4 separate regions of the Homo sapiens genome follow, and all the other regions are reported to be linked to region 2. Evidence: microRNA targets listed by miRTarBase, many of them from high-throughput screens and not tested one by one. Region 2 holds a microRNA gene; each other region holds the end of a gene's coding sequence.
What was found. Region 2 holds the annotated microRNA hsa-miR-4700-3p (CACAGGACUGACUCCUCACCCCAGUG, at 1,664-1,689, shown strand). A microRNA usually pairs through its seed, bases 2 to 8, with sites in the 3' UTR of a target mRNA and lowers its output. Matches are read on the target gene's strand: a 7mer-m8 pairs with bases 2 to 8, a 7mer-A1 pairs with bases 2 to 7 and ends in A, and an 8mer does both.

Region 1 (8,114 bases), not on the chromosome of region 2:
GGGGTCATGGTGATTCAACCCGGGGAGCTTGGAAGGCCTCGCTACAAGTTAACCTTCCTTTGGACAGTGGCTTTGTGATGCCACTTGAAGAAACTGCCCCCCCTTAACGTCCATCACTACCCTGTCTCCATTTATTGTTAACAGTGGCAGAAACCCTCGGGATTCTCAAGTAGAAAGTTTTGGGAGCTCTTACTTTTACTTTTTTTTCTTTGACTACAGTTTTCAAAGTCTACACGAATCTCCCTAACCTCCTGAATTCACTAGGCACTTTGCTATGGACTCACCTGGCATTGTTCAGCCATGCTTTTTTCTTGGGATGGTAAATGTTGTATACCTACCCCTCCAGAGAATAGTGGGAAGAAATGGGAGTTGCTGGATCCTAAGGAAAATCTGTTGGTGTTTGTTTGCCTCAACTCCTCCAGTGGGGATGCTTTTTTCATGCCCTCTACCCCCATAAGTAAACATTTCCCAGGCACTCAGATTTGCATTCCTTGGTGTGCAGGTCCTACAGGTCATCAGACGGCCGGACAACCCCCCAGCTGGGCAGTGCCAACCCCTCCACCCCCCAGCCTGCCTCCCCTGATGTCAGCAGTAGCCACTCTTTGTCAGAATACTCCCATGGTCAGTCCCCTAGGAGCCCCATTAGCCCGGAACTGCACTCAGCACCCCTCACCCCTGTGGCTCGGGACACTCCGCGACACTTAGCCAGTGAGGATACCCGTTGTTCCACACCAGAGCTGGGGCTGGATGAACAGGTAAGGGACGCAGCCTTTGGGTGGGGTTGGCATGGTTGGGGGATGGAACCAGGAAGGGGCAGCATCTGCTGAAGAGGGACCTAGCCATCCCCTCCCCCTTTTGAAGGGACAAAGGGCTGCACTTAAATTGATCTCCTCAACGTTCAGTGGAACTGTATTGATCACTGCTAAATGATCAATACAGTTGTCTGGGTATACCCTAGGAGGGGTGTTCCCAGACTGTCGCAGGAACACTAGATAGACTGGTCCTAGGCTCCAGGCCACAAGGTTTGTGGCAGGGCCTTGGAGCAGGAAGCAGGCTGGCTGGGACTGGGTCCTCAAAGAGCAACTTGTCTGCCTACAGTCTGTCCAGCCCTGGGAGCGGCGGACCTTCCCCCTGGCGCACAGTCCCCAGGCGGAGTGTGAGGACCAGCTGGATGCACAGGAGCGAGCAGCCCGCTGCACTCGACGCACCTCAGGCAGCAAGACTGGCCGGGAGACAGAGGCAGCGCCCACCTCGCCTCCCATTGTCCCCCTCAAGAGTCGGCATCTGGTGGCAGCAGCCACAGCTCAGCGCCCGACTCACAGATGAGCGGGAGACAGCCATCTAAACAGACTCACTAACTATTGGCATTAAAGCTTCAGAAATCTCTGCGTTTGATATTCAAACATCATATGCCGGAAATTTTCACAGTTTTTAGTGAACTTAAGGAATTTAGATCCTACTTTGGTATTTTTTTTTCTTGTTTTAATTTTTGTTTTGTTTTTGTTTCCATGTTTTCTTGTCACACACCTGAGCACTTCCTCCCGTTGGCAAACAGAAGTTCAGGATGAGACCCTGCTGGCCTGGTCCTGGCACATCCTCTGCACTGTTGAATCACTGGACTTACTGATCTTAGATGACCACCCCCTCCCTCACACCTGTGGGCAGGGCAGAACAGCCTGGCGGGCTACAGTTTAGCATGGCCTTCTTGAGCTAGGGTGGAATGGGGCAGGGTGCTCTGGACTCTTACCCCCTCCCCTCCCATCTGTGGCTTGGCTCTGCTGTGGCCCTCCTGGCTGGGTCCCCTTGGTTTTTCGTGCTGGAACATCCCCACCAGAGCCTCTCTGCCATAACTGCCAGCTGCTCTCCCCGAGTGCTCAGCTGGCAGAACACCTTTCCTTTCTCACCCAGAACTTAAGAGACTGATTTTTTGTTTCATCTGCATTTGGTCTTCTCTGTTTTGACTCTTTCACTGCAGTAACCTGGCTGTGGCTGCTCAGGTTCCCCTCCTCATGCCCCTTGGTACCCTTCCCTGTCTGCTCTCCCATGCCATGTACACACCCACAACCCGTCCTTCCACTTGGAATATTTTTACCACCTATCCTGATCTTTGAAGGTAGGGTTAGGACTACTTAACCTCTATTCCCACTCCCCTGCAAACTGGGGGTTGTGGGAAGTGAGCAGCCATCTCCCTGTGTGATTTTTTTTTTTTTTCCCTCTGATTCACTTTGCCATGTTTCCTTCACATCCAGATCCCTGTCGGTGTTAGTTCCACTCTTGGTCTTTCACGCTCCCCTTGCCTGTGGAACATTGTCTGGTCCTAGCTGTGGTTCCCATTGTTCCCCCTTCACCCTTCTCTGTTAACCTTGTGCCTGTCTCCTGTATGATCACATCACCAAAAAGGGGGAGGGGGGAGAAGACTCTTTTTTTTTGGCCATTTTGTAATCGTATAAAAATAGTAGACAACTGCTTAATGGTTGGGGTTTTTTCACAATTTTCAACATTAGTGATTTTTTTTTCTGTTTGCAAGTTAAAGGGTTTGTCATTGTTTCTTTAAAAAAAAATACAATAATGCACCATATCCCTATGCATAAAGTGCTTCTTCTATTTATAAGGTTGAAAATTCTGAATAACCCTTTTAGCATTGAAAAAAAAAACAAAAACAAAAAATGGAAAAAAAAAACCTTGTATTTTGTAAATATTTTCTTTTCCTGCTTTGGAGCTGTGTAATGGCAGCGAAACATGTAGCTGTCTTTGTTCTATAGAAATGCTTTTCTTCAGAGAAGCTGATCTTTGTTAATGTCTTGATTCTGTTCGCAAAGCACAGACTAGTGCTTAAAAAAAAAAAAGAAGGAAAAATTGAAAAAAATAAAAAAAAAAGTTACAGAATGCTGTGTACCAGGCCTTTCTTGACTTACTGAACTGTGTATGCATGGTAGTGTTGGCAGTTTCGGAGCTGGCTCTCTGCCGCCGTTCTTTGGGGTACTCTGACTTGCTCTATACCTTGGAAAATCTCCATTCTGTCTTGTGGGAACGCCGCAGGTTGATCTGATGGCCACCAGAGAGAGAATGGTGGTGGCTTTTCACTGAGGGTAAGGGCTGCCAGGAGGAGAGGGGATCTGCATTGATCATCTCTTTTTTCTTTTTGTTGAGTGAAAGCAGTTGATGCACTTTCTCTCTAGTGAAGTCAGCTGTATGATATTTTCTATCTGTTCTAAGTTGCTCTTTAAAGGAGATTTTGCTTCTCACTGTTAAATTTTTCTGAGGTTTGGTGGGGTCAGTGAGATACATAATTTGCTTAGAGCCTGGATTGGTTCTTGCCTGCTGCCTGAGATTATAACATCTTTCTTCTGAGGAGGTTACACGCTTTTTTTTTTTATTGTTTGAGATGGGATCTTGCTCGATTGTCCAGACTGGAGTGCAGTGGTGCAATCTTGGCTCACTGCAGCCTGGATCTCCTTCCTGGCCTCAAGAGATCCTCCCACCACAGCCTTACCAGTAGCTGGGACTGTAGGCATGTGCCACCATACCCAGCTAGTTTTCGTGGGTTTTTTGTGGAGATAGTGTCTCACTATGTAGCCTAGGCTGGTAGGTGCTTTTTTTTTGTACAAGATGAATAAGTGGGTGGGGCTGGTTCTCCCTCTGCTCTCTTCTTTGCATGGCAGTCAAGCTGAAACAGCCAGTGAGGCTGTCTCTTGTGGCTCTGAAAGCCATGCTCTCTGAGATAGCACTTCTCTTTTGCTGGCCTGTTGCTGCTTTTGTAGCTGCAGTTAAAATCTGTTTTACTTAAACATCTGCCTGCGGTGGCAAACACATCAGGAAGAGCAAAGAAAAGTAGTATTTTGAAACAATCTAAGGATTCAGTATCATGACCTTGGCATAGTTACTAAGGAATAATATGATGGATTACTGTTTTGTTTTTGTTTTCCTTTGTGGCATTGCTATGAAGATGCTATCTGGTTATCCCTATCTTGGTTTAGCAGAAATACTCCTCAATCTATAATAAGGTACCAAAGGAAAGAAGGCAGCTCTGCAAACCTAGCAGGAATCTAAGCCATTCATTAAGCTGATTGGCTTGGTGTTCTGCTCCAGCCCCAGGCCTCTGGACTAAATTTCCAGGGATGAAAGATCCCATATCCTCATCCCCAACCTTCTCAGGTTTGCATACACTGGTGCCGGTCTTGCAAACTGAGTGCTGCATCGTGAGGTCAGCCACAAGGCTTTGTATTGCCCTTTGAATGGGACTAGGATGGTTTGCCAGCATCACAAAGAAGCAACTGCAAATGAGCAAGTCTGAGAACTCTCACCTTCAGGGCCCCAGAGAGAGCTGTTAATCCTGATGTCCAGCTTTTATTAATACTATCATTTCCTGTTCTGAGCTAAATTATCTAAGGGTGCGTGGGAAAGAACTTAAAAAATAGACATTCTATATGACTTTCTTGTCCTTGGAATCCATGAATGGAGACCTTATTTAATCAGAGTAATAACTTTATTTCCAAATTCACTTTTACAGCAACAGTCAGTGTAAATCATTTGTTAAAACACACAATACACTATATAGACATTCACAGACAGAAAGCTAAGCTAAGATGATTTCATGTCCCTCCCCCCACCCTCAGAATTACCGAAGAAATCATGGGACTTGCAAGTGCCAGAAATAGTCCTGCTCAACATGGCAAACTCATGGGGCTAAGTCTATTAGGAGGTGAGGCTCTAGGCCAGTGCCCAGGGTAACCCTTTTCAAAGCTGAAGAGAAATCAGAAGTTTTATGAAGCTGCAGGTCTGTAGATGGGACACGCAGGTGATCACCTCTGCCCTCGCCCCGACCTCGTGGCTTTACTTGGAGAACAAAGATGAGGAGGGTGAAGCGAGTGATCTCAGCTCCAAAAGCACAGGCTGTGTGTCTGGAGCCAGTGTGAGAGGTGGCACAGAGGTGCCAACGGCTTAGAGGGAAGGATGCCAAGGTCTTAGGGAGGCATGATTGTGGGCTTAGGACCCCTGAAAGAGGGCAGCAGGCCAAAGCAACCAGATGTCCATATTCCTACGCCTGCACCTGGCTGGGGAGGGAATGAACTAGCCAGCTGCCTGGGAAAGCCTGTCAGTGGAAAAGAGAAACCCCAAGGGCCTCTAACTCCGTGGCTGCTCCCTCCCTCTAGCAAATGTGGTTGAAATCATGAAAAGGGTTACGAGGCAGTTTAAGTGCTGCACCCCAAGATCTCCCTTTGCCCATGTTAACTATCTTACACATTCCTCCCCCCTCCCCCCATAGCACAACAAGCAATAGCAAACAGGATACAGTCTCACCACTGAAGTCAATTTAAATGGAACTATTGATAAAGTGAGTCAGCAGCTTGAAGGAGCCGGCATACAGTATATCCTATCTAGCCCACCCAAGGACACTGGCTCTGCAGGTGGGAGAAGTGAGGGGAGGGGAGGAGTGCCCAGCCCTGGGGGGATTGTCCTCATTTAAGATCACAAGCCAGCGTGCCTTTTCAATTTATCTGCCAGCACTGATCACCCTAAACCATGATCTTAGGCTGGCCCCAAGAGCCTGCCCCACAAGGGGGAGATCCCAGAGCCTTCCGTATAAGAAGGCCCATGGTGCTGAAGAGCAGGGCACAAGAACTTCAGGAAGAGGAACCGAGGTGCGTGAAGAAATGCAGCCGAAACTGTTGGCAGTAATGAGGGGGGCATATCTCTAACCACCACCAAATCTACCCCACATTTCCTTCTCCTTCTCAGATCCCTTCAACTTAGGAGAATTGCTGGGACTCAGCGAACGGCAGGGAGGCTCTTGGTGGAGAGTTCTGGGCCCAGAGACTTCCTTTCAGGTAAAGCTCTAGCTGCACACGAAGCTGCCAGCCCCAGGGGAGGCCCTGGATTTCTACTGCCAAGTCCCTCAGGGTTGCCTTTAACTGTACCCAAACCAGAAGTGGCAGAATTGGGCCTGAGGCTGCTGAGTTTCTTTAGGCAGCAATGTTTTGCAAAGGCGGCTTCCCTTTTCTCATGGCAGCAGATGGAGTTTGTGCAAGGTCAGCGGGCTGAGGTGCTCTGGTCAAGGCTTTGGGAACAGTGTCTCCTGACTTGTCAAGTCATCCTTCCTCAGGCAGGCAGCTTGGGCCTCTAGAGCAGATCCAGGACAGGCAATTCATCCCAATCCCTGCTGTGGTCGCAGGGCCCTTGGTGGGAGGCTGCGCTGCCCCTCCAGAGGGCGAGCTTGGAGAGGAACCCAGTCTGAGGGGTGGCTGAGGCTCACGGAGCTTCTGGGAGCTGCAGATCCCCCCAGCTGGCAGTGGCTTCCTTTTTCTTGTGATGCAGGAGTTGTAAGCCTCCTTTGGGACTGCCATGAGACTTCGGGCTATGACCAGAGAGAACCATCCTCGCGCCGCAAGCCAGACCAGCCACAAGACCTAGTCTGTGCCCTGACACAGGGAGCCCCAAGGGGAAGTAGGGAAGGGGACATCATCGCTTCAGTCCTAATCCTGTGCTTCAGGCCTTCGTCACAGCTGAACGGCCTCCTTAGCTGCTAGAAGCTGGTCTCTGTTGGGTCCCAGGTGCTGAGGAAAGCCTTTCAAAACTTGGGAGGCCCCAGCAGGGTGGCACCACACAGGCCACACGAGTCCCAGTGTGGGGGTGAGAGACACCTCGTGAGGGTGGGTTAGAAACCTCTTTACAAGCATTTCAAGATACATGCGTCCTTTTTTTTTTTTTTTTTTCTTTTCACTATCATAGTCACTCTGGTGAATCCAAGCATAAACAGACAAATCCAACTACAACTCAACAGGGTGCAGATGGGGAGGGCAGGGCAACATCTATGTATATGTTCAGCTGCTCCAGCAGAACAGACAGCATGGCTTCCAGCTGGGACTGGGGGAAAAGAACCATTTCCAAGGGGGTGTGTTCCCCTTTGTCGGGTGTGGAGGGCTGATACTATGCATGTGGAGCTGAGCAGCGGGCTGGGCTGTCTGGGAGGTTGGCAGCTACAAGCTAGGGTGCAAGTGGGGGACAGCGGGACTGTGGGCCTGCCCTGGGTGCCTTGCCCTTCCATCCTGGTGCCACCACTGACAACCAAGACACCCAGCCTGCTGCTGTGGGCTCAGCACAGGAAGGGGCCAGGCCTTCTCAGGGGAAAGGGCTCTCTCCATGTCAACAAGGCAGAAACACCTAGGGTCACAGCTGAGCAGTGCCCTGGCTCACATCTGTGACGGGAGGAGGAGACAGGGAACCGAATCAGATCATGAGATTCGTGGTGAGGGTCCCAGTTGGATGAGTGGAACTGAGAGTGAGAGGCTGGGGTCCCACTCTTGTGCCTGGACTTTGCCTTCCCTTAATTTCACCCTCAGTATGGAGTAGGTACCTCCTGCAACCAACCAGGGTCATTACTGAGAAGGGGTGGTGAGGCTGGGAATTCGGGACATTGTGACGTGTGATGAGGGGTATAGGCAGTGATTGGGCTCTCACGGCAGACAACAGCACAGCGGCGCAGACGGGGTGACTGCAGTGGCCGTGGGAAGGACAGGGGGCTCGGGACCTGCCTCCCAGACCCCCACACACTCCAGAGATGCCAGTGGCCCAGGCTTGGAAACGGGTGGACGTCTCCCAAGAGGCACAAGTCCTTACAAAGAGAACTGGTTAGCCCTAAAGTCCCAGGTCTGCAAAGTGGCCAAAATCATGGCAGCAGTTCCAACCTTCAGAACTCAATAAAACAGGGTTTCTGTGGAGCAGAGGGAAGCCCCTCAACTCAGGCCCCCTACCCTGCAGGGAGGGAGGAAGAGGCCAGCGCTCTCAAGACATCAAGGTCAGTCTTTTCTAAGGAGGTCATCCACGAAGTGCCACCCTCCTGCCAGCTTGCCTTCTCTTTTTACCCGCTGTCCCTTCTCCCACAGGCTGCCCTGCAGAGGGTGGCACACTGACCCACAGCAGGCCCCCACCCCCGGCCACCAAGGACAGGCGGCCGCTCAGACGCTGCAGGTGGCATAGGCCTTGGCTCTCCCAGCGGCAAGGAGGGGGATGTCTACTCTCCAGCACGTGGCTTCCTCTCCCACTCCCACTTCTTGTGCTTCCTCTCCCCTCTGCCCAGCCCCTGCCTCGGCCTCCCCCGTGGCCTCCCGCCCCAC
Region 2 (8,114 bases):
GTGGGCTTTAGGGCGAGTGGCCCCGAACCTTGGCCCAGTGCTTTGTCCCAGGCCAGAGTCTTGGCAATGCCACATGCTGGCAGCTTTCTCACTGAGAAGGTCCTAGCTTACCCCTGTGTGCTGGCCTTGGATTCAGCCCCGAGAGAGGGGAGAGACCATTCCTCCTGTGGAGTGGGTTCCTTATCACCAGACCGGCCACTCTCAGAACTGGCGTCCACTGTAAATCCAGGTGCCTTACGTGTGGCTCTGTCCCTTATGCTGCAGGGGAAAGCTGCATTGCCATTGTTCCCACCTCCTCACTGGCAGAAAGATGCCAGGGCTGTTAGCACTGTCTCCTCACCTTCTGTTTCTCATTGTGGCTCCTCAAATGGGATTTGCATGTTCCTGTCAAGCGTAACAACAATCCCTTCTCTCTTTGACAGAGGCCCAGGTGGGACAGTTTCTACTATTTGATATTTGAGTATTATCTGGGATGTGGTTCTGGAGCTGCCCAGAGCTGTGCTTAGTAGAGTGTGTCTTGGAAACATGCCCCTGGGCACACTGTATCTGCTACATTAGTGGGCTATCTCTTATCTGCAGTGTTCGCTTTTGCTAGAAAGAGGATGTGGAGGAAGGAGGAGGTGGGCAATCTGGCTTGAGTTGTGCTGTATCCTCTTCCTTGTTAGCTTGCCTTAGTCTCACTGGAGACCATTTGCGGATAGTGCTTGGTCCATGCCCAGCAGGACAGGGCTTTGCTGCTTCTGAAAGTCTGGTGTTCTGTATCTGGGGCTGTGGGTTCCTGTGTCTAGCTGCTCAGGAAATCTTGAGAAGCATTCCACTCTGGGGTGTAAACCAGTATGAGTTTGAAATTCAAGCGTTTGTACCTGAGTTGGGGAGAGAATTGCAAGGCATACTTTCTCTGAAAGTAACAGAACCATTCAGGCTGCCATGTTATTAAGGAATCTGAACTGTTGATAGCAGTTACCTTGTGGGTGATACAATGGGAGGCGGCAAAAAAACTACCTGCATAGGAGACCCTGCCCTTTGTCAAGAGCTGGGAGCACATTTCATCAGAGTAGCAGGCCCACCTGGTGCCAGAGGGCCTGCCCCTCCTGCTTCTGTTCCTTTGCCTTGCAGTCTCCTGGAGAGAGCCTCTCTTTTCCTGTACAGCCTTTGGGCCAAAATGCCCTTCTAGCTTCTCCAAAGAAGATCCGAGTTTATTTCATTCTATGTTTTAAGAGGTAAAAGGACATAACAAGTGAAAGAAGTTTTGGGCTAAAGTAGGCTATGTCTCCTTATGTATTACTCAATACTGTTTTGCAGAGAAAACATTTTTCAAGCATGTGCTTCCTGAAGACACCTCAGTCTTTGGGCCATTTGATTTCCAATACATAGGGTGGAAGAATGTGATTTTGGGGCTGACCATAAACTGGAAATTTGTGAAATGGCAGTGATTGGGCAATCTTCAGTTTATTTTTTCAGTTGAAGTGGAACTCATTTCTGGAATGGATTTAATAGGCTGTGTCTAATGTACAAACTGGGTGAGTCCTGCCTTAGTGTGTCCTGCCCCACCGGTACGCTTCCAGGATACTCTTTTCCCCTCTGTAAAGTCACTTTCTTCTGATGGCCAGTGTCACTATGATGTCAGTGAGGTCTGGGGATGAGGACAGTGTGTCCTGAAATTCACAGGACTGACTCCTCACCCCAGTGCACGAGGATTCCTGTGGCATCAGGTGCTGCTGTACCTGGTGTAGGAGCCTAATCATTGAACCATTGTGTTACTCACATTCCATGTCACAGAACATATCAGCCTCAAGAAGGATTTGGTGGAGGTGGATTTACCACTGGTTTTACAAAGGACCGTGTAAAGTCATTGAAGTTGTGAAAGTCTATTTTTTTTCCTGTAAATCTATTTTTTACAGAATATAAGAAACATCAATGACCTGATCTGTCCTTCCTCCTCCTTCCCGCTTCCCCCAAAATCACATTCCAGTTTTTATTGTCTTTGTGTCCAAAGTAAACTAGGTGACTTATTTGTATAAAATGTTATTTTGCCACATGAGACAGTAATAAAAGAAAGATTTTCACAGTACGTCTCCCTCGTCCTGTCTCCTGATTGTTGGGCCCGTTGTGTTGCTGAGGGGAGCAGGGGCGAATGGGGGCTCCAGGTTTCTCTTACTTTGGCTATTATGTGGCCCTTCTGTAAGTAGTTGAACTAGAGTATAGCTGGCTTCTAGGGTGATTGAGGAATTGTACTGGACTTTAGGCTTAATATTTTTGCTTTATATTTTCCCAGGGTGAGTGGCTTTGTAAATTGAAAGTTTACATGCATGTTTTAAAGGTAGGGTTTTTTTTTTTGAGATGGAGTTTCGCTCTTTTTTCCCAGGCTGGGATGTGATGGCATGATGGTGGCTCACTGCACCCTTCGCCTCCCGGGTTCAAGTGATTGTCCTGCCTCAGCCTCCCAAGTAGCTGGGATTACAAGTGCATGCCACCACGCCCGGCTAATTCTGTATTTTTGGTAGAGACAGGGTTTCCCCATGTTGGCCAGGCTGGTCTTGAACTCCTGACCTCAGGTGATCAACCCGCCTTGGCCTCCCAAAGTTCTGGGATTACAGGTGTGAGCCACTGTGGCTGGCCATAAAGGTAGGCTTATTAAGAAATACTTTAACTACAGTAAAATTTACCTCAATTAAGAGTATTGATGCATTTTGACAAATGAATACTTTTATTACCCATCACAATCATGATATAGGACATTTCCATCGTACCCACTCAGAAAGTTCCTGAGTTCCTTGTGTTTGCAGCCAGGTGACTTCCCCCACTTCGCCTCTTGCAACCACTATCTGATTCTGTCTCTATTGGAAAACTTGGATACTTTTAAAATGAAATTTGAACGTTCATATTTACAGTCACAAATTCTCAAGAGTCTGGTTTAGATGCTCTGTGGCACCTGAAGCAATTATTGGCCTTTGCTCACAAACACAACTCACTTATTTCTCCCTTTTCTCCTGCTTCTTCATCGTTTCTTCCACCCAGGGCTGGTTCCCAGGTGGGATGACGGAAAGGTGAGGAAGCCCTTAGAGCATTTGCCAATGGGAGCCATTCATTTGACTTTAAAGTACTGAGAATTTAGAGGCGTTCTTTTAAATGCATTATTTAAAAAGAAAGGTAACACATTAAGGACTTTGCTGCATCTTTTGATTGGCTTTCTTCTAGGAAGTAGTGACCGAGGTTTCCACTTTCCTCCAAGAGGAAGAGACAGAAGTTTTGGCAAATAGGTCAATGCTGGGAACAGATGCCTGCCTGGCTGAGTGCTGGGAAAGAAAGGCAGTTGGAGGGATGTGTGGGTGCCTGGGAGGGCGTGGGTGGTGCCCAGGAGGCTATGGGAATCAGAATCACACTTGCACAAGAGAAGACCCTTATGGGACAAGTAAAATCAGCATAGTTTCTTGGGCGGGGCAAAGGTGTCCTGATGAGGATGCTAGGGGTCAAATATGTGTCTGGGTTCTGCCCCAATCGGGAATGAGACACAGTACTGAAGTGGAACGGGGGTAGCATCTCCACCCACCTTCACAGCCTCTGGGGAAAAGAAAGCTTTCCTTGCAGCCCAACTCCAGGGGCCTAAATATTGAGCACCAACACAAGACAGGTCCTTGAGCTTCTCGGAGCGAGTCGGGGAAGCAGATAATTTCAGATGCAAAGTGCCTTGAATAAACAGAACGAAAGATAGAGAGCCAGAGGGGGAGAAACGGCTTGGTGTGGTCAGGGCAGGCATCCATGAGACCTAAACGAAGAGGGGGCATTCCAGACAAAAGGAACAGTGATCACAGAGGCCCCGAGTCAGGAACCAGCTAAGGGTCTTAGAGAAGAGCTGCCTCGTAAAGCTAAGCAACAATAACCAGGGAACGGTGGGCATGGGCCCTGATAGACAAGGCAGGTCTTGGCTTTTTAAGCCATAGAATTGGATTTTAGGAGGGATGGGCCCGCCGACAAAGCCAACAAAGTTTTAACCCGAAGATCGCTATCTTATTTATGCTTTAAAAAGACCTCTCTGGCCTTTCTGCGAAGCTCTATCCTTAGCTTTCTCTTGTTAGCATTTTGATTAACGAATGTGGGCACGAACAGCCAGCTGACCGACCGCGCGCGCAGTCGAGCGTCGGTTCCTCGCCTTGGGAGGGACCACTGGAGGCCCCGCCCCCTGGCCGCGAGCGCACCTCGGCCCCGCTCCCGAGGCCCTACGGGCGTGGCCTCTGTCCCGGGTCCCGCCCCCCAGCACTCCGGAACAGCGCGCTCGCAGCGGGAGGTCGCGAAGCCTGGGACTGTGTCTGTCGCCCATGGCCGCCGCGCTGCTCGCCCGGGCCTCGGGCCCTGCCCGCAGAGGTGAGTGCGCTGGGGATCCGTACGGCGGGGCTTCAGCCCGCGTCTGGCCCAGCGGGCGGAGGTCCTGGCGGCCGGCTCTGTCAGAGCCGCTGGCAGGCGGAGCCCCACTCCGGGAGCGCTCACGGCCTTTGCCCCAGTTCTGCTGCTCCTTGCGCCGACCCAGCCCGGCCCTTCAGGCGTCCCTGGTTCCTGCACAGACCCCTACCCCCCGATTGACCCCAGCCACCAGCCCAGTTCCCAGTTCCCATATCTCCCTCCCTTCATTTCACCCCCACTAGAGGTTCAGGGTGCGTCCTTCTTCCGGAGCCAGGCCTGGGATTGAACCAGACCCGCATCTGTGACCTTGGGCAAGACAGCCCCTCCTCAGCCTCGGTTGGCCCATGTGTAAAATGTCCACAGAGAAAATCAGAGTTGTTGGGAGGATTAAATCATAGGGTATGTAAAGCACTTCGTGCCTGGCGTGTAACAGGTGTTCCACAAATGCTCGTTCTTGCTGGTTAATACAGTACCTTTCCCATCTTACGTGTCTCCAGTTGTAGCAGCCGTGACACATATAGCCACGGCTTCCTTTGCCTGGCCTGAATTACAAGGGGAACGCTACTGAGAACTGTGTTAAGCGCTAGTTAGTCTTTCTTTCGCACTCCGAGGAGCGGAATACTATTCGCCTCCACTTGTTATAGAAACGGAGGCTCACTGACGTTTAAAACCCTTGCCTAAGGTCACAGAGCTGAGGTCTTATTACTGTTGGTATTATACTGAGGACTGAAGGATGTAGTGTATGGAAATGTCTAGTGAGTGTACTAAGCATTCAGTTAGTATGGGGTTTTCAGTGGCCGCCATGGACATTTTGGGCTGACAGTTCTTTGTTGTGGGGGCTGTCCTCTGCCTTGTTGGATGTTCAGCAGGGATCCCGGACCCCTATCCACTGGGTACCAATAGTATTCCCCTGCTCTAGTTGTGACAACTAGAACTGGCTCCAGACATTGCCAGATGTCCCTTGGAGGGCAAAATCCTCCCTGGTGAGTTAGTGGGTCACTAGGATTCTTGGAGACCTCCTGCCTCCTCCTTCCACTCACTTCTGCCCTTGCCGGCAGCTCTCTGTCCTAGGGCCTGGCGGCAGTTACACACCATCTACCAGTCTGTGGAACTGCCCGAGACACACCAGATGTTGCTCCAGACATGCCGGGACTTTGCCGAGAAGGAGTTGTTTCCCATTGCAGCCCAGGTGGATAAGGAACATCTCTTCCCAGCGGCTCAGGTGAGAGTGCAACCTCAGCAGCCCACGATAGTGGTCTGCCCTCTGCTACTGGATGAATGGTGGCAGTGACAGTCAGCGGCACTCGGACTCTGGTAGAGGAACCCCAAAGCAGGGCCTGGAACCCAGAAAATGCTCTGGAAGTTTCCCTTGTCCAGCCTGTGGCCAGTAGCCAGGACTTAACTTCTGGGACAACAGTAATATGTGGTGGATGGTCAGTTGCTTACTGTGCCAGCCACTGTGCTCATTCTAAATAGTGCCTTTAGGGTGTTTGGCATGCACTAGGCACTGTTCTTGAGATGGGTTATCTCATCTGTTCCTCACAACGGTCCTGTGAGGTGAAGGTACTATTCTTATTTATTTTTTTGAGACGGAGTTTCACTCTTGTGGCTCAGGCTGGAGTGCAATGGTGCGACCTCGCCTCACTGCAGCCTCTGCCTCCTGAGTTCAAGTGATTCTCCTGCCTCAGCCTCCCAAGTAGCTGGGATTATAGGCGTGCACTGCTCTGCCCCGCTACTTTTGTATTTTTAGTAAAGACGGCGTTTCACCATGTTGGCCAGGCTGGTCTCAAACTCCTGAATTCAGGTGATCTGCCCACCTCGGCCTCCCAAAGTGCTGGGATTACAGGTGTGAGACACCACGCCCGGCCAAAGGTAGTATTATTATATACCCCATGGACTCAGACTTGTGAACAAGTTAAATAACATACCCAAGGTCATGGAGCTCATCAGCGGCAGCCTGCTCGACCTATTTTCTTTTTTATTTACTTATTTTTTTTTGAAATGGACTCTCGCTCTGTTGCCCAGGCTGGAGGGCAGTGGCGCAATCTCAACGCACTGCACCCCTCTGCCTCCTGGGTTCAAGCAATTCTCCTGCCTCGGCCCCCAGTAGCTGGGATTACAGGCGGGCACCACCACGCCCAGCTAGTTTTTGTACTTTCAGTAGAGATGGGGTTTCTCCATGTTGGGCAGGCTGGTCTCAAACTCCTGACCTTAGGCGATCTGCCCGCCTTGGCGTCCCAAAGTGCTGGGATTACAGGCGTGAGCCACCGTGCCCGGCCTGCTTGAACTGTTTTCTCCCCTGAGTTTCCCATCAGCGCGCTCCCTCCCGTGCCACTGTGTTCTTCCATTTGCATTCAGTCTGTCTGCAGCTACGCGTTGAAGATGTTACTGCCGTACACGCTGACCTAAAGATGTCCAGCACCTGGTGTAAACACTCAGTAGTAGATAGTTGTTTAATTAATGATTTGTGAAAAGTCAAACCTCTCCGGCCTCTTCTCCTTGCCTGTTTTTTTTTTTAATTTTAATTTTAATTTATTTTTTATTTTTAAAAATTTTTTGAGACAGTCTTGCTCTGTCACCAGGTTGGAGTGCAGTGGCGCGATCTCGGCTCACTGCAACCTCCGCCTTCTGAGTTCAAACAATTGTTTCCTGCCTCAGCCTCCCGAGTAGCTGGGATTACAGGCGCACACCACCATACCCGGCTAATTTTATGTATTTTAGTAGAGACGGGGTTTCACCGTGTTGCCCAGGCTGGTCTCAAACTCCTGAGCTCAGGCAATCCACCCGCCTCGGCCTCGCAAAGTGCTGGGATTACAGGCGTGAGCCACCACACCCGGCCTTAAAAATGAGTTTTAAAAGGGACGTAAAACATTGTTTTTATATGAGGGACCCACTAACCGTTTCCCAGATATGAAGGCAGCAGGTGCTGCAGGCTTGCCTTGTCTGTCACTGCTGGGAAAGGGGTCTTACAGTTTCTTACGGTTTCTCTTGGGAGTCTGGAGACCACCAGGCTCAGCCTCATCAGTGCTGTTGCCTCTTCTCAGGGTGCAGGTCAGGGTTGCTGGGTCACAGACACTAGGAACCAAGAGTGACCATTGCAGGGGGCTCTAGGAGGCCACCCCTTGAGATAGCTCTGAAGGTCAGGCCTCTCTGTAGAAAATACTAAAATATTGGGGCTGGGACGGGCGCCTGGCTGCTGTTAGTTAATTACCATCAATTTACATAGGTCAGAAACGATGGACAAACCCGAACCCATTTTTTTCCCTTGACTGCTTCTCTTTTTCTTTTTTCTTTTTTTTTTTTTTTTTGAGATGGAGTCTCACTCTGTCCCCCAGGCTGGAGTGCAGTGGTGCGATCTTGGCTCACTGCAGCCTCTGTCTCCCAGGTTCAAGTGATTATCCTGCCTCAGCCTCCCAGGTAGCTGGTACTACAGGTGCCCGCCACCATGCCTGGCTAATTTTTGTATTTTTAGTAGAGATGGGGTTTCACCATGTTGGCCAGGCTGGTCTTGAACTCCTGACCTCAGGTGACCTGGCTGCCTCAGCCTCCCAAACTGCTGGGATTACAGGTGTGAGCCACTGCTTAATTATATTTTGGGTTTCTCCTTTTTGACTGTCTCGTCTCTTCCCTCTCCTGCCACCCCTTTTTCCTTCCCTCGGTGCTGGTCTCCCTGTCTCTTTTTCAGGAGGCCCTTTAACGAGTGCACATTACCATGG
Region 3 (8,114 bases), not on the chromosome of region 2:
CACGCAAAGAGCAGGAGCAGAGGCCGGGTGTACGGGTGGGTGCGGGGCTCACCCCAGCTCGGCGGCGAGGCCACGCACAGAGCAGGAGCCCACGCACAGAGCAGGGGCAGAGGCCGAGTGTACGGGTGGGTGCGGGGCTCGCCCCAGCTCGGCGGCGCCGACTCCCTCTCCCGCCTTACTCGCCCCCGTGCCTCAATTTCCCCGTCAGTGCAGCGGACATGACAATGCCGTGGTCCCAGGTGGGCGGCGGGATCTAATTAGTCGGTGTAAAATGAGTGAGATCTGGCTTCTCCCCGGCACCCCGCAGCCTGCCCCCACTCTTGGTGGCTAAACGCAAGGAGCCCCTGAGTCCCAGCTCCGCTGGGGGCTCTCAGCAGTTCTGGCCGGGCTCCCTCTTGCTCGCGTGGCTGGTCTCTGACCCCTGCACCGCAGGCGGCCCCGACGGAACGCGCGACGGGTCCCCGACCTCCTGCTGGGGACACCCGTCTCGCTGCCCGGCCCTTCCCCGCTTCCCGCGCCTCTGCGCCCCGGAGAGCTCTGAGACAGGACCACCTGGGCAGCCTGCCGGCCTGGACCTCTGCCTCAGAGCCAGCGACGGAAGCACAGCCTCGGGCCTCCACCGGCCACGCGCTCCCCATTCCGGGCTCTCCCACGTCTGCACACTCCAGCCCAGCCACGCGGAGAGGCTTCCAGAACCTGCCCTGCGGCCCCGCTTTGCTGACACCCCACTCACTCCGTGGGTTCTTCCTCCCGCCAGGACCCTGCCGGGGCCTGGGGTCCGTGGGAAGCCGGCTCAGGAATCAGGATCCTGGCCTCCTGCTTACAGGGAAAAGGGCTCCATCCTCCTGGTGTTTCCCGACTGCAGCGCCTCCAGCCTCCGGGGCTGCTGCGGCCCAGGTTCAGCTGGGTTCACTCCAGCTTTGCTGGTCTCGCCAGTGCAGAGTAGGGGCGCGCTTATGACCTAACGGTCATCTCCCCACAACTCTCCTGGAAGAAAATGCCACCCCCATCTCTTTCACTGTGTCCTATACATGGAGCCACTATGCTCTGCCCTATGGGTTCTGGGGCTCGCCCCCTCCCCACCCTAGCGACCGCCCTTCCCCAGTGCAGCCCAAGGTTGGGAGGAGCAGATCACTTTGGGAAGCAGGTGGATATTAAGAGTAAACAAAAAGTGGGCAGTAGCCACTTGGCAGCCTTCATAGGAATCCTTTTCTGATTACAGCCACAGCAAACAATGGGCTGTTGACTTAGCTCTTCTGAGCTGTTGGAGAAGGAAATTCTAATCTACCCACCCGCAAAGGGCGAGTGAGCAGGGCCACTAGCACAGCTCCTGTGGCAGGGCCTAGCCTTCAGGGGCAGTCAGAGGGCACAGTCTGTTGTTCTGTCTCCTCTCCATGATCCCTAGCAAAAGCGGCCCCGCCCCACTGCTCCCTTCCGCATCCCTCTTACTCCAACCACTGACGTTTCTCAAGCCAGGGTGCCCTCCGAGGTTGCCCTCGGAGCCCCCCTTCTCCCACGCCTACCCAGTGGTTACATGGAGCTCCTGAATGGATGAGTTGTTGCCACTGAGAAGTCTAGGGACATCAGGGCAGCAGAGGAGCTACAAATCCCAGAAGCCCCCGCACCCAGCTCTCCACTTCCTCCTTTTAAAGGCTGCTACTCAAATGCATCATCAGAACGAGTTTGGCAAATGAATTTTAATATACAAAACAACAAATATAGATTCACAGCATTTAAAAAAATCATTCAAATAACATTGTAAATAATTTTTTTTTACAAAAAACTTCAACAAAAATACATATCAAGTTACATCAATCTTGTACACTATACTTTGGCTGTCAACAGCAAATTCCTCAGTTCAGAAGTCCCATTCTTTGACCTATACAGATGACACATCATCTTGAAGTTAATGAGCTAAAATGTTGCCCAAAGCCTTGCAAAGTAGGTTAGCGAGTCATACAGAATGGACACTAATATTTACAAAAAAAGATTAGAAAGATTAAAAGTATTTTCTAAATATAAAATGTCAGTGCCTGTGAGATAACTAAAGGCAACAATGTAAAGTATGTTGTAGCTAAGTAAACTTGTATCAAATATTTAAGCTTTTGCTTTTTTTTTCAAGATCAGTCATGTTCCACTTATTTTTCCAAAGCCTTTTGAAATCCACTTTCATTGCATCCTGAAAACAATGAGACTTTAATAGAACAATTTGCAGATTAGGTTATTATGGGAAAGCTGGGTCTGCTAGTAGTTTCACCTAGTTGACTTGGGTCCTCCATTTCTGGCCTGTGAGCTGGTGAAAGGACATTTATTCATACTTCTTGACACTCCTTTGAGGGACAATTCTAAGTTTCTTCTCTCCCTGACAAGTAATAGTGCAGAAATACTCCCCCTAACTCCAGGTAATTATGCTGTTCTATTCTGACTGGGACACCAAGTTGATCTGCATGAAGGAGTATCAGCAATTTGGCTTGCAGAGATTTCCACCTGATAAAATGCTGGTTCAGCTGGCTTTTACAAAATACTTATATTGTGAACCAAATTTTGAATTAAATGCACTTTGCTTTATGTCTAGATAACAGTCATGTAGGATGGGGGGATTTTCTGAATAAGAATGGCATCGGTTTTCATCTAGGCTAGGTATAAAAAGGCACAATATTCAGAAATAGTGTTTGATGGTGGTGAAATGTTTTCAACTACAAAATCAGATCTACAGTGGGAAACAAAAATCAGATCTAATGAAAAGAAACCATGTGGCTGGTATCCCAGGGAAGCTCCAGCATACTACTGCTGCCCTCTTTCTAGTCCGCAGGCCAAAGACAAAGAAATCTACTGCTCCAGGATTCTGCAAACATTCAATTTTATGATTTTATAATTGCTTTTAATCTACGGCAGGGTTTTTATATGTTTTAGGTATGATCACAATTGAAAAGGTTGCTTTTGACCCAAGGCTACTTCAATTATCTTCTAACAAAGTCGACCAATTCTGAAACGTGAAGAATGGAATAGGTGAAATTCATCAAAATGTTATGTCATCTTTTCTTTTCTTGGCCCATCTATAATATTATGTAAAGTAAGGTTAAAAAGAGAGAAAGGCATAGAGGCGGGAGAGAGCAAGATTCCCAATGAAATTCATACACTGTCCATGGAGGAGGCTCTCTGTTCCCTTTCTTTCCAAGTGGAACACGTGACTCAAATCAGGAAGGAAGTTTGGCAAATGGAAGATGAGAATACTTGAGCCTTCCATTCTTGAAGAACTCAGGCATGTGGTAATAAAACCCAAGCCAGACATGCAGATTTTCAAGAAGTCAAAGGATGTTCTAGCCTTTTAAAAATGTTAGCAGTTTTCAAAATCACCTGAACATCCAAGTAGGATCCACCCAGGAGAGATCTTTAATGGAGTGACCCTCACACTCTATAAAACTGACAGGGGCAACGAATTGAACCTGACTTAACAAAAACACATCCTGGTATTCATAAGTCTCTGTTAGGAAGTCCGTGGAGGTAGGTGGGAGCCGGAAGTTAGGGCTCAGCTGGAAAATAAATTAGGACTGGCCACAAAATGCAAACCATTTCTTCATTACCCATGAATAAATATTAGGAAATGGAAGTCCTAAGAATGACTCTTAAACTGAATCCTCACTGAAAATGTAACACAAGCAAATGATTCTCTTTACTTCCTTAAACTAATTCTCTTATATTACATTTAAAACAATTTGTTCAAAATTGCTGTACATACAAACAACTCTAGCAGAGACCCCTACAGTTATTGCTAAGGTGTGCAGGAAAAGCATATTAAGTAGTTTCCAACATATATCATTGTATTTTGTTAGTAAAAAGGTCAGTTCTATAAACACATCTAAAGTTGGAATGTCTGTTCAAGAAGGAAACATACACACACACACCCCCACACATGCCACAGGACCTCTCCAGAAGCTCCTTCCTGCAGCAACTTCTGTCTCAGGACGTGCCGAGCGGCATGATGGTCCACAGAAGCAACTCGGGCTGTCAGCCATGGGGCACCTGAACCCTTAGCAGTGCTGCCTGTAAGCATGTGTGCCAAGGTGGCTCAGAATGGACATCAGGCGGTCACAGAATGTTCCAAGGGTTCACCTGAGGACCAAGGTTATGTTTTCTTGATGCATGATGTCACTCTCAGGAACGGCTCTGGATGTGGGGGGCTGCAGGGGAGAAGGGAGGTGCCACACACCTGCAGACTGAAGAATACACCTTTGTCTCTGACATCACAGACTTGTTTATTCTCAAACATGGGCCTGTTAGAAAAAAAAAAACTGCAGGGATAGCATACAAAAATGAGCTTCTCATATAGATATCCATTAACAGTTTAACACAGCATCTCCTGTCCAGGGCACTGAGCGGGTTGAAAGGGCACCTCTCTTGCAGAGCCTGCCTTCTCTAGACATAGTTAAAAGTTATATCATGAAAATGTACAACATAGACAAAGAAAAGGAGATGATTATCTGCAGGTGTCAGCCTAGGTGGCCTTTGTTAATAAAGACTGCTATCTCTAAGCCAAGATATTTTGTGAAGGTCTTTTTTTATAAAGAACAAGTCCTCAGAAGCCTGATGACATGCTCACGTGACATGGTTATGCCCTGTTTGGCTTTATATGTGATAAAGGCAGCTTCTGATTTCCAAGAAGCAGGACTGCTTTGGCTGTCTTTGTGACTTCATTGCTAAGGACGATGTCAGGAGCAGTGCGGCTCTTTGAGAGTGCCTTCTGACCAGTGCATTTTCATATTCACTGTATCATAAATATTACAGTAAATGAGCTTTTTATATTGCAAACAGTTGTTTGAATGTTTTTTGTTTTTGTTTTTGTTTTTGGAGACAGTCTCGCTGTATCTCCCAGGCTGGAGTGCAGTGGTGCGATCTCAGCTCACTGCAACCTCCGCTTCCCAGATTCAAAAGATTCTCCTACCTCAGCCTTCCCAGTAGCTGGGATTACAGGCATGCGCCACCATGCCCAGCTAATTTTTGTATTATTAGTAGAGACTGGGCTTTGCCATATTGGCCACGCTTGTCTCGAACTCCTGACCTCAGGTGATCCACCTGCCTTGGCCTCCCAAAGTGCTGGGATTACAGGCATGAGCCACAGCACCCAGCCTTGCATAGCAGTTTCTTAGGTTACAGCATGTGGGCAAGATGTGATTTCTGCTCGGAGTTACTGAAGGCGTGCAGGCAGGAGGGAATCCGACTCCGGGACAAAGCCAGTGTGCAGCAGGATTTCTCCCTCCTTGCCTGAAAAGCAGTGGATTCTTGAGGATGCGTAAGTTGCTCTGCACTGAGGACCCTGATGAAGGTGACAGATGCATCTTCTTTCTCTCCACTTTGCTTGCAGGAAGAGGAACCTTGCAGGATGACATTTGCACTACCAGTTAGCATCTGTGTGGACACAGACGATGCCAGGGAACACCGTGGTCAGCCCCACGGCAGCTGTAGGTCCCCCAGTATTACAGAAGAGAGTAAGAGCTCAATTTCTAAGTGTGACCAGACACGTGCAGCATTGTGTCAACCCCGTCTTGACGGCATCCTTGAAAATCAAATGCAGAAGTGATCCTCTAACCTCATCACTCCTTAGGAACTGCAAAGCCCTGGATGCTGTGTTTGGACCTGCAGCAGGCACTTGCTCATCATCAGCAGGGGTGGCTTCAGCTGCTGCCTAATCACTCGCTTTAGAGCATGGTACCGGGTCCCACATCTGGGCCATCTCATAGTGGGTCACGGGTGTTTCTGTGTAGGATAAAGCTTTGTGTCATGACCGTCTCCTCCCTTCCACAAAGGCAGCTGGGTCTCCAAAGACTGAAGGTGATTCCAAGACCTTCTCTCCTTCATTGATCCCTAAAAGGAAGTTTTTATCACTGGGTCCAAGAAACTTTCCCTGGATTGAAGCACACAAGAAACAAAGACAGTTCTTCTCTTGACACCCAGCTCCATGGAAGCACAGCCTCCTGTTTTCATTTCCGGAAGGGGGTGAGCCTGTTGAAGGTGTGCCAGAAGAGCGAGGACTTCCTCTTGGGTTCCGCCAGGCCAAAGACCTGCTGCTGGGGGACGCTTGTGGGCATAGTGATGTGGCGCTGGTGGATGGGGTGCAGGCCCTGGTGCGGTGGGGCCACAGGGCACCTGTTGTAGCCTGACTCGGGAGGGGAGAGAGATGGAACAGGGACTGAGGGTCGCTTGTTAACCAGAAAGGAAAAAAATAAAAATGCTGAGACTCCAAGTCCAAGTTCTCAGCTAATTCTTTTTTTTTTTTTTTTTTTTTTTTTTTTTTGAGACAGGGTCTTACTGTCACCCAGGCTGGAGTGCAGTGGTGTGATCTTGGATCACTGCAATCTCTACCTCCCAGGCTCAAGCGATCCTCCCACCTCAGCCTCCTAAGTAGCTGGACCTACAGGTGTGTGCCACCACGCCCAGCTAATTTTTATATTTTTTTGTAGAGAGCTAATTCTTAATTCACGTTAACCAAAAAGAAGGTCCAGTAGCTACACTTGTTATGTTCAGGTACTCCGTGTGGAGCGTGACACAGTCTCTCTCACTGAACTCTCCCAAAAAGCCTCCAAGGAGGGTATTATGACAACAACTTGACAGGGAAAGAAACTGAATGCCAGGACGTGCAGCGGGAAGTGGCAGAATCTGAACCAGACTGACAGTCAAGGTGAGTAGCAATAAAATGCTCTAAATGGAAGTCTGGAGCTCATGCTGCCTTGGCCCAAATTCTTCTGTGCCATTTATCAGCTGGGATTACTGGGGAAATGATATGATTTCTCTACGCCTTGGTTCCCCAATCCCTAAAACGGGGATTACAGTACCTATGGGGTTGCTATGAGAATTAAATGAATTAATAGAAGTAAAGTGCTTAGAACTGTGCCCTCAATATCTAATCACTCTAATCAAAACTTCACCGGCATAGGTATTTTTAATCTGTGCAGAGGTAATTTAGAAGGTTTATTAAAATTAGCGATTAGATTAAAACGTAACTGTGTAAGTCAGCATGGCACGAAGAGGGTGGGCCCTGAAAGCAGGAAGGCCTTGGCTCAGAACCCGTCCCTGCCCCTGGCCTGCCAGAAGGCTCTCCCTACCTCCCGAGGTGGCAGGAAGGAAGAAATCAGATAACCCAGGCACAGCGTCCCACCCGGTAGCCACCTGTGAACGTCAGCAGTCCTTCCGTTCTTGAGAAGCCTGGCTGCTGGGCGAGTGACTCGCAGAAGATATGGACAGAAAACAATGTATTCTAACAAATTGATTTACTAGTCATCTGACATTAGAAGTGGAGATTTAAAAAAATTAATAACATGGGTTTTTCTGCCTTAAAGATATTTGTAACTTAGTGGGGAAAAGAAATTCTGCATTTGCATGGAGAAAGCAGGGGAGTGTTAAGTGTGGTTTGGGGAATCAGTTCTTCACTGACTAAAGGTCAGTGGTCTATTGCAGTCCTGGGATTCGTTGGTCCTTGTTTTTGCATTTGCAGTCAGGAAAATACCAAAAGAGATACATTTCATGGGGTAAATGCCTTTTAAAGTAGAAAGATGACGGGAATAAAGTTTCTAAGAATACAGTGCATATTTTTTGGGGAAAAATCCTTATTACTGAATTCCTGTTGGGCCAGATTATCTGCATCCTGTTGGGCCAGATTTGTGTGGACAAATCTTAGTGCATCAGAGCCCCTGGGTATGCGGCCTGGGCATCAGCATTTTTGAACAGCTTCCCCAGGGAATTCTAATGTGCATGGAGATTAGGGAATCACCGCCCTAAATCAGCTCACGTGTCTTTTTTTGTCTAACTCCTTGCCTGATGTACCGAACCTTTACATCTTTTTCTTACTTAAACTAGACTATATCCAGCCTACAGCTGACAAGCAGTTTGGGGTTTGAGATTTTGTCCTCTCATGCCTAAAAGATGCAAGAGTCCTTGGTTTGCCTCAGACTGGGGATGTGCGTGACCTTGTGGCTAACACCATCAGCACTTGGGGGAGGGGAGCAGAGGGGCCCCAGGCAGGCAAGGAGGTCCACCACCCTCCAGCAGCCCCTCTGAAGGTTTCCTATGCCCACATTCCAATGGAAGCAAACACTGACGCACATTCAAAACCAAACACA
Region 4 (8,114 bases), not on the chromosome of region 2:
TCAGTTTCTAGAAATTGTAGAATGACTGTTAAAATGAACAAATATTCTTTTTTATGTAATTTGGAATAGTAATGCATTCTTTCTGTATCAGAGTCACAAAAGTATAGTCTGAGAAAGGAATAGGTCCCATATTTTTTAGTTTTTGTGACATTTCAGAATCAAGCAACCTTTTTTAATTAATCCTTAGTACTGCTTTTATACACCATTTCTAAATGCTTTAACTGCTTGTATTTGGGAACCGATTTTGTTTTGGCAAGGGTTGAAACGAATTCTTGTTATCTATCAACTAAGTTTTTTTTGCCACATTATTTTTAAGGTCATTAATAAAAGTTGTACTTATCTAACAGATGTGGAAAGATTAAAAGAGAATACAAATCACGATGATAGCAGCAGGGACAGTTATTCCTCTGATAGACACTTAACTCAGTACCATGATCATCATAAAGACCGACATCAGGGAGATTCTTACAAAAAAAGTGATTCCAGGAAAAGACCCTATTCTTCTTTTAGTAATGGTAAAGACCATCGTGATTGGGATCACTACAAGCAAGACAGCAGGTAAACTTGGCAGTCACTTTAGAAATTTTGCTTATGCATGTTTTTCTCCTTATCATGATGTTCCTGTATTTGACCTGTCAGCCAATTCAATCTTCATGCAGTCAAAACAAATCTTGTGAAATAAAGGTGTTGTATATAATTAAGAAAAATGTATATATTTTAAGAACTGAATTTCTCTATAAAATGGATTTTGAATTATAAAATTGAGATCAAAATATGTAGTAAGGTGATGTAGGGAGTTGTATGATTATAAATTGCGTGGGGTTCATTGTTCGTTTTGAAGAATATTGGCTCAAATACTCTTTAAAATATAATAAGTGGGATAAAAGCTTGATATAATAGTGATTCAGGTTTGGTTTAGGAAATTTTGCATTCCATATTTTTAAAAAGTCGGGAAAAATTAATATATGTGAACACATCTCATTGAGGTAAAACTTAACCTCAGCAATCTGGAATATTATTGGAACCAGGAAGGTTTTTTGTTTATTGTTTTTTGAAGCCTTTGAACAGTAAGCAACCTCAGTGTAATAACATCAGAATACTTTTTATTCCTTTATTGATAAAGAAGTATTTTCGGTAGTTAATGATCACTACTAAAAGTAAACTTGAAAACTGAGATTTATAGTATTTATGCTTTTATAGTAAGTAGAAGAAACAAATTAGAAGACATCTTTGTATTTTAGTGTTCATTACAATAATTTCTTTGAGAACCTCTGTCAGCACTATGAACACATCAGTTGTAGAATGGCTGTTATTTGAAGGGGTCAAATAATTAAAAGGAAAAGGCAGATTTATAGTATATATTTCACAGGCTTATGCAATATAGTTACAGTTGTGTGTGTGTCAGTTTGGAAAAGGCACTCATTTTAGAGAATAATTCTCATTAAACTGCCACATTTATTTTTTATCAAGCTGTCACATGTTTGTATGGAGTAAATTTCGTAATGATTCATGTGTCGAGTCTTACTATATAACTAGTCAAACTTGAGGAAGCTTTTAATAGGCATCAGCAACCAGTGAAAAATTTTTCAGCATAGACTGCATTCTAGCATTTTTAAACTTTTTCCTGCTTAGAGGTTGGTAAAAGGCTCTGGTCTCAGGAGTATTTCAGATAGTTGTAATAATCTTAATTTCAGCTTCCAGACAATTAAGATGCAGTCATATAAATGATGTGTAAAATAAAAAGCAGCTAATTATCTAAAATAGCCATGTGAAATTAGATGCTATTTTAGGGGTTTTGTATGGTTCGCTTTAGTTTTATGAATCAAATAGTTTTTCCAAAGAGATATATCCAGTGATTTTTGAGTTAATTAAGTAAGTTTTATAATGCAACACTGAATTTCTATACAATTAAAAACATGTTTTAAGGTATTTTTATGTTTTTTAGTTATCTTTTATTTGGAAACATTTTAATTTGCATGATTTGTCTAAAATTCTCAATTTTTCTTTATTAGATATTACAGTGACAGAGAGAAACACAGAAAACTGGATGATCACAGGAGTAGAGATCACAGGTCAAATTTGGAAGGAAGTTTAAAAGATAGATCTCATTCTGATCATCGTTCTCACTCAGATCATCGGTTACATTCAGACCACCGGTCAAGTTCTGAATATACGCACCATAAATCTTCCAGGGATTATAGGTATCACTCAGACTGGCAAATGGACCACAGAGCTTCCAGCAGTGGCCCTAGGTCACCACTAGATCAGAGATCTCCTTATGGCTCCAGATCTCCATTTGAACATTCAGTTGAACACAAAAGTACACCGGAGCATACCTGGAGTAGTCGGAAAACATAACAAAAACTGATACTTCGTCTTTCTGGACTTTTCTTTTAGCCATATATCATAAACCAACACAGTAATTGCCTTACATGACTTGAAAGATATAAACAGATCTTCTATCAGTAGCAGTATTGTTACTTCTTTCCAGGATGCAAGGTCTATTATCCCAACAGAAGAGAAAATATTTTTATATTTAAGGATTATGCTGCACTGTACTACAAAATTGTAGTACTTTTTTTTGTTTTCTTTTTTAAAGAAATGGAAAATGTTTACTATTACAGGGACCTCAACACTGCCCTCCCATACAGGCTGGATAAAACTGTTTTTAAGTCAGTGATTTTAGACTGACCTCCATTTAAATTATGTTTATATATGAACTTTACTCTGACCTGTGATCATGTTTCAGGAAGGAATGAAAGAGAGTTCTTTCTTAATAAAGAAAAACACTCAAGGACTTTGTTCATTTCCAAAGCTACTTGTTTACATTGTACACTGCGACCACCTTGCCGCTTTTCATCACAAGCTTGAATATTTAAATTCTGTACTTATATCTGTAAAATAGCCAGGAATTTCCTGTTTGTGATCTATTATGCCTTTTTACAAAAAAAATGGCTGTAAATTATTGTAAATATTAAAGGAACTTTCCTTACTTCCTTCCCTTTCTCAGGCTTTTTTTGACTGTTCCTTTCCCTACCAACTCAGGCCTTCTTATTAAAAAAAAAAAAATCAGTGTAATAACACTTTTTAATGATTTGTCTTGATGGAATCATTGTTTAGAATGTAAAAATGGGGAAAGGGGCCACTTAATTCCATTAGTCCTCTTTTTATACTGAATATTTTATTAGATACATGTTATTCCCTTTTTTTTCCTTTTTTAGTCAATATTGTGTTTGTAGTTTTAAAAAATGGCGAGATATGTAAAATCTAAACTGCATGCTCTGGAAACACTTTTTTCAGATGCATCTGGTTTAAAAGGGTAGGTGTATAAACACTTTTCAGAATCCAAAACGGCCAAAAGTTATTGTAAATCCGTTTGTTTTCCCGTTTTATGTGGGCAATAATGTCAAATGTGCTATGCAGCCAGGTTAACATTTTAGATAAACTTGATTGACTTTTAATATAAACTGTTACAATGCACACTGATTGTATATAAAAACGTTATATATGACAAATTAAATTTAAGAAAAAGGATATGTGGGCTCCTGTAATTTTCTGCTGCATTCTTACTCCCTCAAGCACTTACCACCACCACCACCGCCCCCTACCCCCGTTTTTAAGTAACATTTTGCTGCCAGAAAAAGTATTTTGGTAAGCAGTTGAATATTTGTAATGTGTAGCATTACAACTAAATCTGTTTTGGAGACTATGAATATTCCTATGAAGTAAAACTTAGGTCATAGACATTTTTGTTGGCCCCTTTTGGCTTCCTACAGATATTATTATGGGATGCTTTATATTTATTCACAGATTTTTATTTTGTTTTATATTCAGCGGGAAGTTTTTAAGTCATGTGGCACACATTCTTGCATGTATGCTTTGATGTAACAAATTTGAATCTTTGACGAATATAAGTATGTGGACATAATTTCTATAGTATTGCTATGTGTGTCACTGTTAATTAGCTGTGGGAGCAACCTACAGATATTTGTCCATAGGTGTATTTTTTAATATTTTCCTTTGTCCAATTAGGTTTATGTGTATAAAAGCTTGTGGGTTTTTTTGCTTTTTGTTTTGTTTTTTGCAGTAATTTCTCTTTCTGATACAGTTACCCTGAAGAATAATAATGCTTTGTTTCTTTTCTGGTATATGAGAGAACATGTGAGGGAGTAGCTCAGTTTTTTAAACATCTAATTTATAATTAAATATAAAAGTAATGAAGGTAGTCCTGGCACACATTTTTGAAACTTTTATCACTTTTCTCTACATTTAGTATGACTATTTTATTCCACAAGATAGCATTTGACTAATTCATAATGCTTAAGTCATAAGATGGTGGCTGGCATTTTTTAATTTATTACTAAAAGCTAAGATATTTGCATTATATTGTGCAAATTTCACAGAACAATGTTGCATTTTCTGAGATAAGGCTCTAATTTTTTAAATAGTGCTACATTTAGTTGAAAGTTTCAGTCAGCTAGTTAGCTGAGTTGAATGAAAAATATAGAACTGTATGTACATTTATCAAATGATAAAATATGTTCATTTTTGTAAGAAATCAGAAAAATTAAGACGCAATGGTGAAGAACATTAGTACATAAATATAGCAGAACATTCTCCATAAAATATTCTGTTTTCATTCTGCTTTGTTATTTTTATCCAGTTATGTTTAATTTTTCAAGGGTGAGAGATTATGTATAGTACTGTACCAATTAACCTTCCACTTTTATACAATAAATAATTCTTACTAAAAGCAATAGCCTGTTTGCTTATAAAGATATTCTTTGTTTAGAGTATGTTAGAAATTAATTTTCAGACTATGGAAAATGAGTTTGAATAATTTTATTTTCAGAGTGAGTAGCTTAATGAGAACCTTTTTAATTTTATGTAATATAAATTATAATTTCTTTTTGTAGTTAATATGAAAAGGTTGAGTAGGTTATTCATTTTCATGAAGTTTATCAAGAATATGCTCTAGGAGTAAATGGCCTGATTTTTACTCTACCCCATTACTATTTCTAACTAGAAAATAATCTTTGCACCCCAAATTAGCTGTCATAGCTTTATAAATACAAATAGCTTTATAAATACAACAGCTTAAAAAGGGATAGGGATTTGGAAGAGCAACTAATTTTTAAATACAGGATTTTAAAAAACGACTTTCAGCTTCATAGGAAACTGCAAAAATATTTTAAAATATTTCTGAGTTAATATGTAAAAGCACATTAATATAGATGCCTCTATTAAATATACATTAAATACTCAATTTGAAAATGCAGACAAAACTTAGATACATTTTAGCATTGTACAATAATTGTAGTGAATGGAGGATGTTATAGAGGACACAACTAGATAGTAATGCGACAAATATTTTGAGATAGTGTCAAAATGTGTGTGAAAATTTCTAAGATTCAATTATAGATATTTGGAAGAAAGTTTGAGATTATATTTTCTGACAATAACTAGTAATTGATTTTGTAGAACACTTCATGCTAATTTTCTTTAAAAAATTAGGACCTAATAGGTTGACTCCATTACAGAAATTCATTGAATTCTCATAGGAAGATCTAGGAATAGGAAATCTTAGCTATGGTGTAAAAGGATGAAAGATGAGATTACTGGGGAAAGTAGGATTAATGAAAAATGTTAAAAGGTTGTTCCAAGTACCTATACAAATTCTCTAATGGGGCTTCATGTGCTGGATTTTCTACACTAAAAGGCCACTAACCACTCTGCCCTTTAGCTTAAAAAAAAAATTACATCTATATTTGAAACAAAATTTGTAGTTCCAACTCCCAAATGAATGAAATTATTTTAATTCGATGTTCTACTCCACATTTGAGTCCTGATCTAAATATGAAACTAAAGAGGTATGAACAGTCTAAAACTCCTAATGATTCTATTAAATGAGCTAAGGATATTGTTTCCGTTGGTGATATGCAAACTTTATGTGACTGAAAAATGTGTGATGTATTATCATTTCATTATTGTTGACTAATATTAATTAGATTTCCAATCTAGAATGAGCTATGGAACTGCCACTAGTTACTTTTTTTTATTCCTTCTGTTTACTTTTCAAATCTTTGATTTGTCTCTAGTGTTCTGCAGGCTGACTATATTAAGTCCTGGTGTGGTGGTTTTATTTATTTATTTTTTTTAAATTTCTTTTTTTATCAGCTGTTGCCTCTTACCCACTTCTTTTTACTTTCTGGAATCCTATATCATTGCTATCATAAGACTTAATTTCTGATCTCTCTCTTTCTCAACAGCTGTACTATTTTTCTCTTCCTGTTTCTAGTGCTATCTTCAGCTTCAACCACTACCCTGAACTCATCTCCACTTAGACAGCTAATAGATATGTAATATTAAAATATGTAAAACCAAACTCAACCCTTTTACACTAAGACATTAAAAGTTTTAAAAACTGCAAGGCTGGGTGCAGTGGCTCACTCCTGTAATCCCAGCACTTCGGGAGGCCGAGGCAGGCAGATCACTTGAGATCAGGACTTTGAAACCAACCTGGTTAACACGGTGAGACCCTGTCTCTACTAAAAATACAAAAATCAGCTGGGTGTGGTGGTATGCGCCTGTAATCCCCACTACTCGGGAGGCTGAGGCAGGAGAATCACCTGAACCGAGGAGGCAGAAGTTGCAGTGAGCAAAGATCACACCACTACAGCATGGGCGACAGAGTGAGACTGCCTCAAAAAAAAGAGAAAGTTTTAAAAACTAGGGTCTTTGATAAATGCATTCACAGCTTTCTGCCTAAGGCACTTCTTAGCTATTTCTGTTCTTTTTGCTTCACTTCAGCCACTCCTGTCAATGCAAAGAAAATACTTCTTGGCCTTTGCATTATTGTCCCTCTATTAAAAAATGCTTGGCCGGGCGCGGTGGCTCACGCCTGTAATCCCAGCACTTTGGGAGGCCGAGGCGGGTGGATCATGAGGTCAGGAGATCGAGACCATCCTGGCTAACAAGGTGAAACCCCGTCTCTACTAAAAATACAAAAAATTAGCCGGGCGCGGTGGCGGGCGCCTGTAGTCCCAGCTACTCGGGAGGCTGAGGCAGGAGAATGGCGTGAACCCGGGAAGCAGAGCTTGCAGTGAGCCGAGATTGCGCCACTGCAGTCCGCAGTCCGGCCTGGGCGACAGAGCGAGACTCCGTCTCAAAAAAAAAAAAAAAAAAAAAAAAAAAAAAAGCTTATTTGTGACTTGTACAAAACTCGTTTCCTCAATTCAGGTTTCTTTCAGCTCAAATGTCATTTCAAGTCTTGAAATTAGTACCCTGCCCCATCATTTTTAAAAATCCCTTATCTTGCATTTTCTTCTAGCATTACCACAGCTTATATATTTGGTTCATTTGCCATTGACTGCTTCCCCACTAGAATATAAGTTCCATTAGGGCAGGGACTTTATTTTGTTCACTGCTATATTCTCAGTACTTAAAACAATGCCTTGTATCAATTATATTTTCATTTTTTTTAATGTCCTTCCCGGAAATGCTATGCCCTATAAATGGCCAACATTACCAAACTTTTTGTCTTACCGTTGTTAACCTGATTTGTTAGTATTGGAAATTATCGTATGCCTTACTATCTCATGGATTACTTGAGTCTGTTTACTAACTTCCAGTTTTTAAACTTGACTGATAAAAATCACCGGAGGTACTTGAGAAATATAGAAAAACATAAGCCTCATCTCTAGGAATTAAAATGGCAGGGAAATGCTCCAAGTAATGGGGCTTTAATATCTCTTTCATTTACCTGAATAATTAATATAGAGGTTAATTCCACTGTTATAAATAATACAGTAATGCTTAAATGAAAAACTGGTTTCTGTAACTATATGGCTACTTAGGAAATATAATTGATACTTTGCGAAGAGATATGCAGAGATGTGGTATATAATAGGAAAATATAAAACATTCTGATTTGTCTATTGCTTTACCTTTCTTATGAACCTTCTTCATTATTATTTTTTAAATTAGAAGTGAAGTCTTGCTATATTGCTCCAGGCTGGTATCGAACTCCTGGGATCAAGGCAATCTTCCTGCCTCAGCCTCCCAAGTAGCTGGGATTACAGACTCAAGCCACAGTGACTGGGTTGTCTATTCCC

Region 1: miRTarBase lists KANSL1 as a target of hsa-miR-4700-3p. Seed matches in the 3' UTR shown: 7mer-A1 at 2,375-2,381.
Region 3: miRTarBase lists SPATA13 as a target of hsa-miR-4700-3p. Seed matches in the 3' UTR shown: 7mer-m8 at 3,919-3,925.
Region 4: miRTarBase lists CHD1 as a target of hsa-miR-4700-3p. Seed matches in the 3' UTR shown: 7mer-A1 at 3,544-3,550.

What each region holds. Positions count from the first base shown.
Region 1 is chr17:46,024,688-46,032,801 of GRCh38, reverse strand. KANSL1 (KAT8 regulatory NSL complex subunit 1) reads left to right here. Exons shown (of 15, transcript NM_015443.4): 14 at 503-755; 15 at 1,099-2,886. The coding sequence ends at 1,326. It overlaps MAPT (microtubule associated protein tau), which reads right to left. Exons shown (of 13, transcript NM_001377265.1): 13 at 4,468-8,114. Among named protein-coding and RNA genes, the nearest start is that of STH, 29 kb to the right of the region's middle. RefSeq lists an enhancer at 7,447-8,064.
Region 2 is chr12:120,721,570-120,729,683 of GRCh38, forward strand. It overlaps MIR4700 (microRNA 4700), which reads left to right and starts at 1,624; the gene lies at 1,624-1,697. UNC119B (unc-119 lipid binding chaperone B) reads left to right here. Exons shown (of 5, transcript NM_001080533.3): 5 at 1-2,071. ACADS (acyl-CoA dehydrogenase short chain) reads left to right here and starts at 4,257. Exons shown (of 10, transcript NM_000017.4): 1 at 4,257-4,362; 2 at 5,457-5,620. The coding sequence starts at 4,317. RefSeq lists an enhancer at 3,929-4,430 and a silencer at 4,067-4,576.
Region 3 is chr13:24,300,638-24,308,751 of GRCh38, reverse strand. SPATA13 (spermatogenesis associated 13) reads right to left here. Exons shown (of 13, transcript NM_001166271.3): 13 at 1,683-6,154. The coding sequence ends at 5,979. It also overlaps a transcript of C1QTNF9 not described here. Among named protein-coding and RNA genes, the nearest start is that of C1QTNF9, 4.9 kb to the left of the region's middle.
Region 4 is chr5:98,850,624-98,858,737 of GRCh38, reverse strand. It overlaps CHD1 (chromodomain helicase DNA binding protein 1), which reads left to right. Exons shown (of 36, transcript NM_001270.4): 35 at 348-558; 36 at 2,013-4,753. The coding sequence ends at 2,358. Among named protein-coding and RNA genes, the nearest start is that of CHD1-DT, 74 kb to the left of the region's middle.